Linked DNA regions of Homo sapiens: region 2 is linked to region 1. Evidence: fine-mapped expression QTL. Tissue or cell type: whole blood. Region 1 holds a variant in brackets; the other region holds the start of a gene. Each region is shown on its reference strand, or each on the opposite one. Region 1 overlaps CASC15 (cancer susceptibility 15). Region 2 holds the start of SHD (Src homology 2 domain containing transforming protein D).

Region 1 (5,519 bases):
TATTTACTTAGTGTGGTGATTAAAGGGAGGAACTCCAGAGTCAGGCTGTTTGGGCTCAAATCCCAGCTTTACCAGTTACTGGCTGTATAACCTTGGGCAAGTTATGAAACCTTTTTGGAATCAGTTTCTTTCACTGCACAATGAGGAAAAGAGCAATACCTATCTCATATGATTGTAAGAATTAAATAAGTTCTACATAAAGCATTTTTAAAAGTGCCCTAGCCAGAGGAGGTCACGTCTAGCCAGAGGAATTACTTCTTGTTGCTGTTATACTATGTGACTATAAATAATACTGACTTTTTTTCCCTTTTCACTGGATTCAAAATGTTCTCTTTCAAGAAATTCCATAAAATCAGGTTTTCCCTTCTATTTTAACATCTGCCAAACTCTCTTCTTAAAGAAATTGAAATTACTTGGCTTATGGTCAAATTTAATGAAGACTGAATCTATAAATCTACAAAGACTTAGAAAGGGATTTATAAAATAGTAACTTATAACTCAATTACTATTTTAATGGCCTGGTTGTGCCTGAAAGTAATTAACTGAGCAAGATTTGAGTATGTGTGTACCTCAAAGATACCCATGACTGATCCTGTGGTGGAATCAGATGTAGTTAGAGAAACTGTGGTAACTCAAATTTTCCCAGCTCTGATCATCGCCTCCTTCATTAGATCCTATGGCCAGTTTTCTGTGTCAGGGTCCCCGTGAACACCACTGGACACTCCCACAATGGCATGGGACCCCCTCCGGGTGATAAAGCCAAAACGGCAGTGTCTGGCAAAGTGAGGAAAGGTGCTGCTGCTTTTACTGCTGTTACAGGCCGTTGGAGTAGCCCTGCTGTAGTGCTACAAGTTTCTCAAAAATTTTAGTCAAATGGCTCTGTAGCATTTTATTTATTTTATTTATGCCCTGCTGTTTGCCAACTCTCAAACTCTATGTTGTCTTATATTTTAATTTCTTTTTCCTTTTTTTTTTTTTTTTTTTTTTTTTTTGGAGACAGGTTCTCACTCTGTCACCCAGGCTGGAGTACAGCGGTATGATCATGGCTCACTGCAGCCTCGACCTCCAAGGCTCAAGCTATCCTCCCACCTCAGCCTCCCATGTAGCTAGGATTACAGGCACATGCCACCACGCCTGGCTAATTTTTTTAAAAAGTTTTTTTGTAGAGACTGGGCATGGTGGCTCATGCCAGTAGTCCCAGCATTTTGGGAGGCTGAGGTGGGAGGATCACTTGAGCCCAGGAGTTCCAGACCAGCCTGGGTAACATTATGAGACCCTGTCTCCACAGAAAAAATTAATTTTTAAAAAAATTATTTGGGCATGGTGGCATGTGCCTGTAGTCTGGGCTACTTGTGAGCCTTGACGGGAGGATTGCCTGAGCCCAGGAAGTCTAGGTGGCAGTGAGACATGATCGTGCCACTGCACTCCAACCTGGGTGACAGAGCAAGAACCTTTCTCAAAGAATAGAAAAAAGAATTTAATTTCTTAGAATTTCAATTCTATTAAAAATCATTTAACATATAGGTGTTTTGCAGTTTATATAAACAGTTTCTTATGCAAATTCCAGATAATTCTGTATTGGGGGGATCAGTTATAGATTAGTAAATGTACACATATGTATTTAAATTGTGCAAAATGAATATTACTAAGCTTTATTTGCAGGTTGGGCCTTCAGTGGCCACCACCTCTGAGTCCTGTTTCACATTGAAAACAACCGATAGAGCACACAGAAGATTCTCCCTGAAGGGGGAGAAGGTGCAATCCGTGCAGTTCTAAAGTCTTGCCAAATGACTCTAGAGCCAGTTATTGAGCTGGGGGTGAGGGTGAGAGAATCACTAGTGAGCTGATTTTGCAATTTTTATATTTGTAACCAGTTACCTAGTAAGCACATGAGAAATTTAGGCCAGGCACGGTAGCTCACGCCTATAATCCCAGCACTTTGGGAGGCCGAGGCAGGTGGATCACCTGAGGTCACAAGTTTGAGATCAGCTTGGCCAACATGGTGAAACCCCGTCTCTACTAAAAATACAAAAAAATTAGCCGGGCATGGTGGGCACCTGTAATCCCAGCTCCTTGGGAAGCTGAGGCAGGAAAATTGCTTGAACCCAGGAGGTGGAGGTTGCAGTGAGCCAAGATCATACCATTGCACTCCAGCCTGGGTGGCAGAGTGAAACTCCATCTCAAAAAAAAAAAAAAAAAAAAAAAGAAACTTAAACAAAGACAAGAAAAGAAAACTCTATTGAATATTAGAAGTCCTCCTTATATCATACTTTGCTGTTCATCATTGTTGAGTAACTGGAAGACAGCAATAATAATAATCTCAGTGCTTGTAAAGTGGTCCATACCTGTAATCTCTTTCAAAGAAAAAGTAAATTAGTTTCACAAATTAGCTTAAAGATTATTGCTGGGTTATTAGTGTTGCTACTGTTTTTACAAAAGGCCATTCATCAGGGAAGGCCAAATTCTGAGCCTTCTCCAATCCTGTAGATCTCTGCCAAGAGCCACATGTGGCCACGGAGTGAGGGTTTGACATGTGACTAGTCTACATTGCAAAATACACACCAGAATTCAGACTTCGTACAAGATATGGAATGTAAAATATCTCGGTAATTTTATATTGATGACGTACTGAAATATTTTGGTTTAAACGAAACATTATTAAAATTAATTTCCCTTGTTTCTTTTTGCATTTTTTATGTGGCTCCTAGAAGTTTTAAACTTCTTGATATGGTTTGCACTTGAGACCCATGTTACATTTCTCTTGGACTGCACTGGGCTAGCCCAGTCAGAGAAAAAAGTAGAGAAGAGTAAGCAGAACTCACAACAATCATTACAGGGAACACAGTCCTTGTCCTGGATATTCCATTCCTCAAAGTGATATGGGAACTTTGATATGAAGAAACTATGAATGGCTAACTTTCTTTCTAATAGACAAGTCTTTTAAAAGCATCAACTTATTAAATTACATCTACGGCTTTGAGGTGGTAACAGATGAATTGTGTAAATAGGGCATTACACATAAAAATTATCAATAGATGGTAGACTGTTTGGGGTGTGTTTTGGCTGACAAGTGATACAGACAAAATAATTACGCACTCATAGCCACAATTCAAAACCACTTGGCAAATGGTCTAGTTTAGTGGTTGGCAAACTGTGGCATGGGAACCAAATCCAGCCTGACACCTGTTTTATAAAAAATAAAGTTTTAT[T/C]GGAACACAGCCGTAGCCTTTCACTTCCATATTGTCTATGGCTGCTTCTGTACTAAAATAGCAGAGTTGAGTAGTTGTGAAAGAGATCATATAGCCTGTAAAGCCTAAAATATTTACTATCTGGACCTTTACATAAAAAGGTTTCTGATGCCTGGTCCATGGTTAACACTAAAGTAAGAGTGGTTCTTTTAAGTCGGATCACGTCTTTGCTCTGCTCAAACTTCGTGACTGTCTTCCCAGCTTAGAGTGAACAAGGAAAAACAGTCAGACCTCATAGCAATCAGCTTCTGGCGCTTCCTGCCCTGCCCCAGGGGGTCTCCTTGCTGGTCCTAGAATATGCCAAACAAGCACGTACTTCAAAGTCTTTCTCCTTATGGCTCCCAGGTCCCCTCCTTCACCTCCTTCAGGTCCTTGTGCAAGTATCAGTGATTGCTGTATACAAAATAGCTGCCTCCTCCCCTTTGCTGCTTTGTATTTCTCTGTAGCACTGATCAGTAACTGGCCTACCATAAAATTCACTTCTCTGTTTACTCTTTTTCCTCCAACTAAACTCCACCAGAACAGGCATTTTTGTCTGTTTTGCTTGCTGCTGTATCCTTAGCACCTAGAAGGATATCTGGCCCCCAAAATACATGAAAGAGTGAGTAGGCAGTTCACTGTTTCTCTAACCGCATATGAGCTAGAAAAAATGCAGGCAAGATATGGTTCCTACCCTAAGTGATAAGAAATATAATCAAATAATTTTAAAAAAATGTCTGGACATAGAAGATCAGACACATGGAGATAAATGCATGCCCTCTCTCCCTTCCTTCCTGCCCATCCCTATGCATCCATTCATCAATCCAATCATCCACCTGCCCAGCAAGAGAAACATTTATTGTATTAGGAGAAGCATGATGGTCTGAGGAAAGCAGTCAGCTCCAGCCATAATTAATGTTGAAAGGCTTTTTGGAAAAGTGTTGTGCACAATGGGGGCAAAACCACTGTCCAAGCAGGGATACTGAAGAAAGACATTTCCGCAGTTATGATGGCTTAGACCATTGGTCTTCAAACTTTATTCAAAAGCTATTTTTTCTATAAGAAATCTTATCGAACTCCAATATATAAATAGAAGTCTTTGATAAAGTCTTCTTTTCCTGAGGAACCCAGAGAGATGTTAACTTCCCCTTCTCTGACCCCTGTTCTCCATGGCATCAGAGGCAACTGTGTCCTTAACACTCCTTAGAACACAGTTTGAAAATGAACAATTTCTAGAAATGAGACTTCAGAGTTTTCATCGTTTTCATAATTCCAAAAACTTATTAAAAGCTAGAAAAACTTAGAAAACCAAAAAATAGGAATCTGGCTTGGTAAAATTAAGACTATGCCCCATCATAGATGTCACAGGAGATGTAATAGACATATAACGAGACATGCGTTCTCGGGTCCACTCCTAGCTCTGCCTTAATCATTTGTCGTATTATTATTATTATTATTATTATTATTATTATTAAATGGCAGCCAAGGTAAATGAAAATGTAGACATCAGCAGCAGTAACCTGATAAAGATCAAGACTCTAACGCTGCTGACAGAGCAGACACACAGCTGGGCATGAAAACGAGCTCTTATTGCAGCTCTGACTGTACGGACTGCTCTCAGAACAACCCTTTTACAATTTTCTTTCCCCTTCTTCATATCCTATTGCTAATATCTGGACATATGCTTCTGGGAAAACAGAAAGGTCTGCTTTTCTGTTAAATATTTTAGTTGCTTATCAGCCTAGGCAACTGTTTGAACTCACCTGAAAAGTTAAGTGATAAATCACTGTCATTTATTACCACCAATCAGAAAAAAAAAATCATGCAATTTATCAACATCATACTATAAATACTGAGATAGGAACTTTCATGTAGTACAGGAACATGTTTACACAAAGTGTTGGAGTCTTACGTTGTATTGATTGCTTTAAACAAAGAAATATTTCATGTGTGTATGTTTGTGTGAATATATACACATATATATATTCTACATTTATACTGTACCTGAACAAATACTTCTATTTTTCTTTTTCTAAAAAGTAAAACTAAAATTAAATTTGTCTCCGTGCCTCTTACTGTCTGCAACAAACGACTCTTAACCACCAGAGGCAATACCATAATATTCAAGAAAATACCTTCACCTTGGGCTTTGACATCAGCAAAGTGTTTAAAGATTAATTACCTGAAAGCTTAGGGTAATTTTACTGGATCAAATAGATAAAGTTATTTTTCTCTCTTAAGTATACATTTTAAGGTTAGGCGCAGTGGCTCACACCTGTAATCCTAGCACTT
Region 2 (5,000 bases), not on the chromosome of region 1:
GCAGTGGCGCAATCATGACTCACTGCAGCTTTGACCTTCTAGGCTCAAGTGATCCTCCTGCCTCAGCCTCCTGAGTAGCTGGGACTATGGTGTGCACCACCACAACTAGCTAATGTTTTGATTTTTTTTTTGTAGAGACAAGGTCTCACTCTGTTAGCCCGGGCTGGTCTCGAACTCCTGGGCTCAAGCAATCCTCCCACCTCGACCTCCCAAAGTGCTGGAATTACAGGCATGAGCTACTGCACCCGGTGGCCTGGGTTCAAATCCTAGTAAGCTAGAACCCCGTGAGACCTTAGCCAAGTCACTACCGTTCTGCGAGCCTCAGTTTCGCTTCTGTAAAACGGGAACATAGTGGTAGGAAGGGCAGCATCACCGGGAGGATATTTAGGTGCCCAGCAGGGGAGCAACTCACTCAGATCTATTTTAGGAAGATCCCACCAGGTTCCAAGAGGAAGGGGTGCTGAGGGGAGGGGGCTGGGGGACTGCAGGGGATGACCATGGAGGAGGAGGAGGACCCGGAGACCAAGCAGGGTGGTCAGAGAGGCAGAAGGACAACCAGCATTATGCATTGAAAAGGGACAGATATCCACCGGGCGCAGTGACTCACACCTGTAATCCCAGCACTTCGGGAGGCAGAGGCGGGAGGATCACCTGAGGTCAGGAGTTTGAGTCCAGCCTGGCTAACATGGTGAAACCAGTCTCTACTGAAAATACAAAAATTAGCCGGGTGTGGTGGCACACACCTGTAATCTCAGCTACTGGAGAGGCTGAGGCAGGAGAATCGCTTGAACCCCAGGAGGTGGAGGTTGCAATGAGCCGAGATCCCACCACTGCACTCCAGCCTGGGTGACAGGGGGAGACTGTCTCAAAATAAATAAATACATAAAAAGAACAGACTTCCCCAAGCAGGTGGAGGTCTGGAGGACTGGGAAGGGTCTGTCTGGTGCCCCAGTCCCCTCCTGTGATCACACATAAAATAAGCTCTCCACGATCCAGAGAGCCCATCCTGAGCCTCCCCTCCACCCAGTCTCCCCAGGCCACCCAGCCACGCACCTCCTCCCCGGGGCCGCCCAGAAGGGCCTTGGCTCTGGCCATATCCGCAGCCTCCACCTTGATGAGCCGGTGCTTGGGAGAACCATACTTGGCATCTCCGGGGTTCTTGGAGTCCCCAGGGCCCGCGGGGTCCGGCTCCAAGCGGCTCTCCGCGTCCTCATAGGGGTCCTCGAAGTCCAGGTTCTTCTGCGCGCGGTAGGCCCTCAGGATGTCGCTCTCGGTGTAGTCCGGGGTGGGCGGCTGCGGAGGGGGCCTCCGACCCCCAAAGCTCAGGTAGTCCCGTAGCCACTTGGCCATTTGGGCGCCTGTCACCCCAATCGGGCCACTGTCAGAGGGGCCCCCACATGCCCTTCTCCGGGCCCCTTTCCCCAAGGAGGAGGAGGAGGTGGAGAGGAAGGGAAGAGCAGGGAAGGATGAGAAAGATCAGGTGCGCCCTTTGGCGGGGCTCTGGATGGATAGAGGGAAGGAAAAGGTGAACGAGGGGGAGGAAAAGGAGGCGACAGAGGAGGGAGGAAGAGAAGCCCGCCTTAGCCCAGCTTGGGAAGCACCGCGGGGGAAGGGGGGACCTCGCAGGGCCCCGAACCCCGCGCGCTGGGGGCTAGGGCGAGGGGCATCCGCGGAGGCGCGCGGAGTTTCCGCGGGCAGCGCGGTTCCCTGGAGCGACACGGCCGCCCGCCGCCTCCAGGAAGCTCCGGGATCCCTTCCTGGGGTCGGGAGATCCGGGCCAGCGCCACCTGCGGACGCTCCCGGCCCCTCTCCCAGCCCGGACGCCTGGGTTCTCAGCGCAGCGGGCGGGCTCCCCAGGGGCGCGGGCGCCGCGCGCAAAGTTGGGCCGCGGAGACTGTGACCCCGGCGGGACGCATCCTTTGTCGCGCTCCTCTCGGCTCAGCGGGGAGCCCCCAGTCCCGCGGCCCCCGCCGCCTCGATCCGGCCCCAGCCACCCGCACAAAGGGAAATAAAAACCTCCTCCAATCCCCCTTCACGCTTTCGGAGAGACTTTCCCCGCCGCCGCCGGGAGGTGGGACGCTGGGGAGGGGGGCGCGCAGGAGGACGCCCCTGTTCCCACCAGCCCCGGGCCGCGTCCCGGGCAGCAGCGTCAAGGCTCCCCCACCTCCCCTCCGCCGCGTCCCCCGCCCCTCCCCTCCCCCTGCGCTCCCCTCGGAGGTGACTGAGACCTTCAGCTGTTCTGGGGAGGGAGGGAGCCGCTGCCCGCGGAGGGAAGGGGGGCTGGGGGCGGGAGTCGCCGGGGCCGAGGCCGCGGCAGCTGGACACTGACCGGGACGCCCGAGACTGGCCGCAGCGAGCGCGGAGCGCGGGAGGTGGGGAGCAGCTGGGAGTGACACTGCTGGGGAGGGGAGGGGAGAGGGAGAAGGAGGGGAGGGGGAAATTGCCCGGGAAATGGGGGACTGCACTTGACCGCCAAAAGGGGTGAAATTGACCAGCAGAGGGGGTGGGAATGACCGCCAGTGAGGGTCGAAATGGAACCGATGTCTGGCGGTGAAACGGACCGGGAGAGTGGGGATGTGCAAATTGGTGGAGAGGTCACTGGCTGAAATTGATATTGGAGCAGCAGAAGGAAGAGGGGGGCAAAGGAAGGGTGGGTGCGGATCGGGCTTCCCCTCCCCCAAGAGGGCTCTGCTCTGTGCCCCGCTCCCGCCCCAGAGGACTAATTGCGGGCAGGGGGAGGGTTGGGGGCAGCTGGCTTGGGGAAGGGAGATGGTATCTGTGCCTGGCGCCTGTCCTCTGCATCTGTCCTTTTGTGGCTTCTGGGGGCGGGGTGGGGGGGAGCGGTGGCGGGAAGAGGGGCAGAAGTGAGAGGGGTCTGGCCTGAACTGGCTGCCTGTTGTCAGCTGTCGTTGTCTGAGGGTGAGGGCACTGAGAGGTTTGGGGGGTGGGAGAGGAAAAGGGAGCCACTGGCCAATTTTCCAGTGCAGAACCGTTTTTTTTCTTTCCCCATAAGGGGGCTTGCCCAGTTCCTCCTAATGAGGGGAGTGAGAGAGGGGTGGTCAGGAAGGATGGGACCCCAGATTCTCTCCTCTTGTGGCCAGCCCCCTGGTCAGGCACAGGTCATAGCTTGGAGAGCACAGTTGGAGGACAAGACAGAAGTCAGAACCAACACTGCTATGACTGGGGCCTCCTGGCAGCCCGGCGGGGCTGAGGGCAGGGTCTGTCACTCCCTGAGTCTTGGTTTTCCTTATTTGAAAGATGTGGTTTCTAACAGGAAATCCCAGACAGCTCTAGGAAGGATTCCAGGAGGGACCGAGCTATCACCTGGCTTCCTCATTTTATGGATGGGGAAACCGAGGCACAGAGATGGGAGGGACTTGTTCAGAGCCACTCCACAGCTGATTCTGCCTGCACATCGCCGTGGGGCCTGGCCTAGGGTGGCACTGGAGTCTCTCTTTTTATTTTTTTGAGACGGAGCCTTGCTCTGTCCTCCAGGCTGGAGTGCCGTGTTGCGATCTCAGCTCACTGAAACCTCCACCTCCCAGGTCCAACCAATTCTCCTGCCTCAGCCTCCTGAGTAGCTGGGATTACTGCCACCACGCCCAGCTAATTTTTATATAATTTTATATTTTTAGTAGAGATGGGGTTTCACCACATTGGCCAGGCTGGTCTGGAACTCCTGACCTCAGGTGATCTGCCGGCCTCGGCCTCCCAAAATGCTCTTCATGGAATCGGTTCTGCAACTCCTCTCCACGATGAGCTCCATTATCCAGATGGGAAAACTGAGGCCTGGAGCCAACAAGGCAAAGCCCCTGAAGGATGCAGGCGTCTAGACCCTTCTGTTCCTCCCCTTCCCTGCACTGGCTGTGTCCCCCAACACAGACCTGTTGAACTCCTTCCTCCCTCCTGAAGTGCATGGCCACCCCCGCTTCCCCCCACCCTTTCAGATCAGCGACAAGGCTGCGTCCCTGGGGGCGGCCAGGGAGCACAGCGGGTAATTGTCCTGCTTTCTGTCAGCCGCAAGGCAATTCCGGGCCACGGGGATGAGCTGTTGACAGATCTCATCAAATCCAAGTCGTCTCCCTGCCGGATAAAACTAGATGTCTGAGGTATAAATATTTGAAAGGGGCCTTCTAATTACAATCTGTGTCAGGAATAGCAATTAGAGGCCCCGGGGCCGGAATCAAACGGCATTTGACTTTCCTGTGCTTTGGAGCTGGCTTCTCCTGGGGCTGCACCCCGACCCTACCCCAAGGAGGGGAGTGGGGAGAGGCTGGCAGGGAGAGGCAGGAGGATTAGGTAGAAGAGAAAGAGATCCAGGCTAGGGGTCCAGTCACCTTCCCCTGTGACCTTGAATCAGCCACGTAACCTTGTGAGATTTGGATTTTTCTTTTCTCCCTTTTTTTTTTTTTTTTGAGACAGGGTCTCTCGCTCTGTTGCCCAGGCTGGAGATGCAATCACAGCTCACTGCAGCCTCACATTCAACATCCTGGGCTCAAATGATCCTCCCATCTCAGCCTCCTGGTAGCTAGGACCACAGGTGCATACCACAAAACCCGGCTTTTTTTTTGCTTTTTTTTTTTTCTTACGCAGAGTCTCACTTTGTTGCCCGGGCCTGGAGTGCAGTGGTGCGATCTCGGCTCACTGCAAGCTCCGCCTCCCGGGTTCACACCATTCTCCTGCCTCAGCCTCCCGAGTAGCTGGGACTACAGGCACCCGCCACCATGCCCGGCTACTTTTTTGTATTTTTAGTAGAGATGGGGTTTCACTGTTAGCCAGGATGGTCTCGATCTCCTGACCTTGTGATCCTCCCGCCTCAGCCTCCCAAAGTGCTGGGATTACAGGCGTGAGCCACCGAGTCCGGCCGCTTTTTTTTTTTGAGGCCGAGTCTTGCTCTGTCGCCCAGGCTAAAGTGCAGTGGCACAATTTCGGCTCACCGCAAGCTCCGCCTCCCAGGTTCAAGCGATTCTCCTGCCGCAGCCTCCCAAGTAACTGGGATT

What was found. PIP is the estimated chance that this variant, and not a neighbour inherited with it, causes the effect.
Region 2: it holds the start of SHD, and the variant in region 1 is the best candidate, but not a certain one, in a credible set for the expression of SHD in whole blood (TOPMed, PIP 0.74).

What each region holds. Positions count from the first base shown.
Region 1 is chr6:22,076,988-22,082,506 of GRCh38, reverse strand. The region is part of intron 8 of CASC15 (cancer susceptibility 15); the gene reads right to left. Among named protein-coding and RNA genes, the nearest start is that of NBAT1, 67 kb to the left of the region's middle. The variant T/C (reference allele first, on the strand shown) is at 3,210.
Region 2 is chr19:4,276,414-4,281,413 of GRCh38, reverse strand. SHD (Src homology 2 domain containing transforming protein D) reads right to left here and starts at 2,148. Exons shown (of 6, transcript NM_020209.4): 1 at 1,054-2,148. The coding sequence starts at 1,350.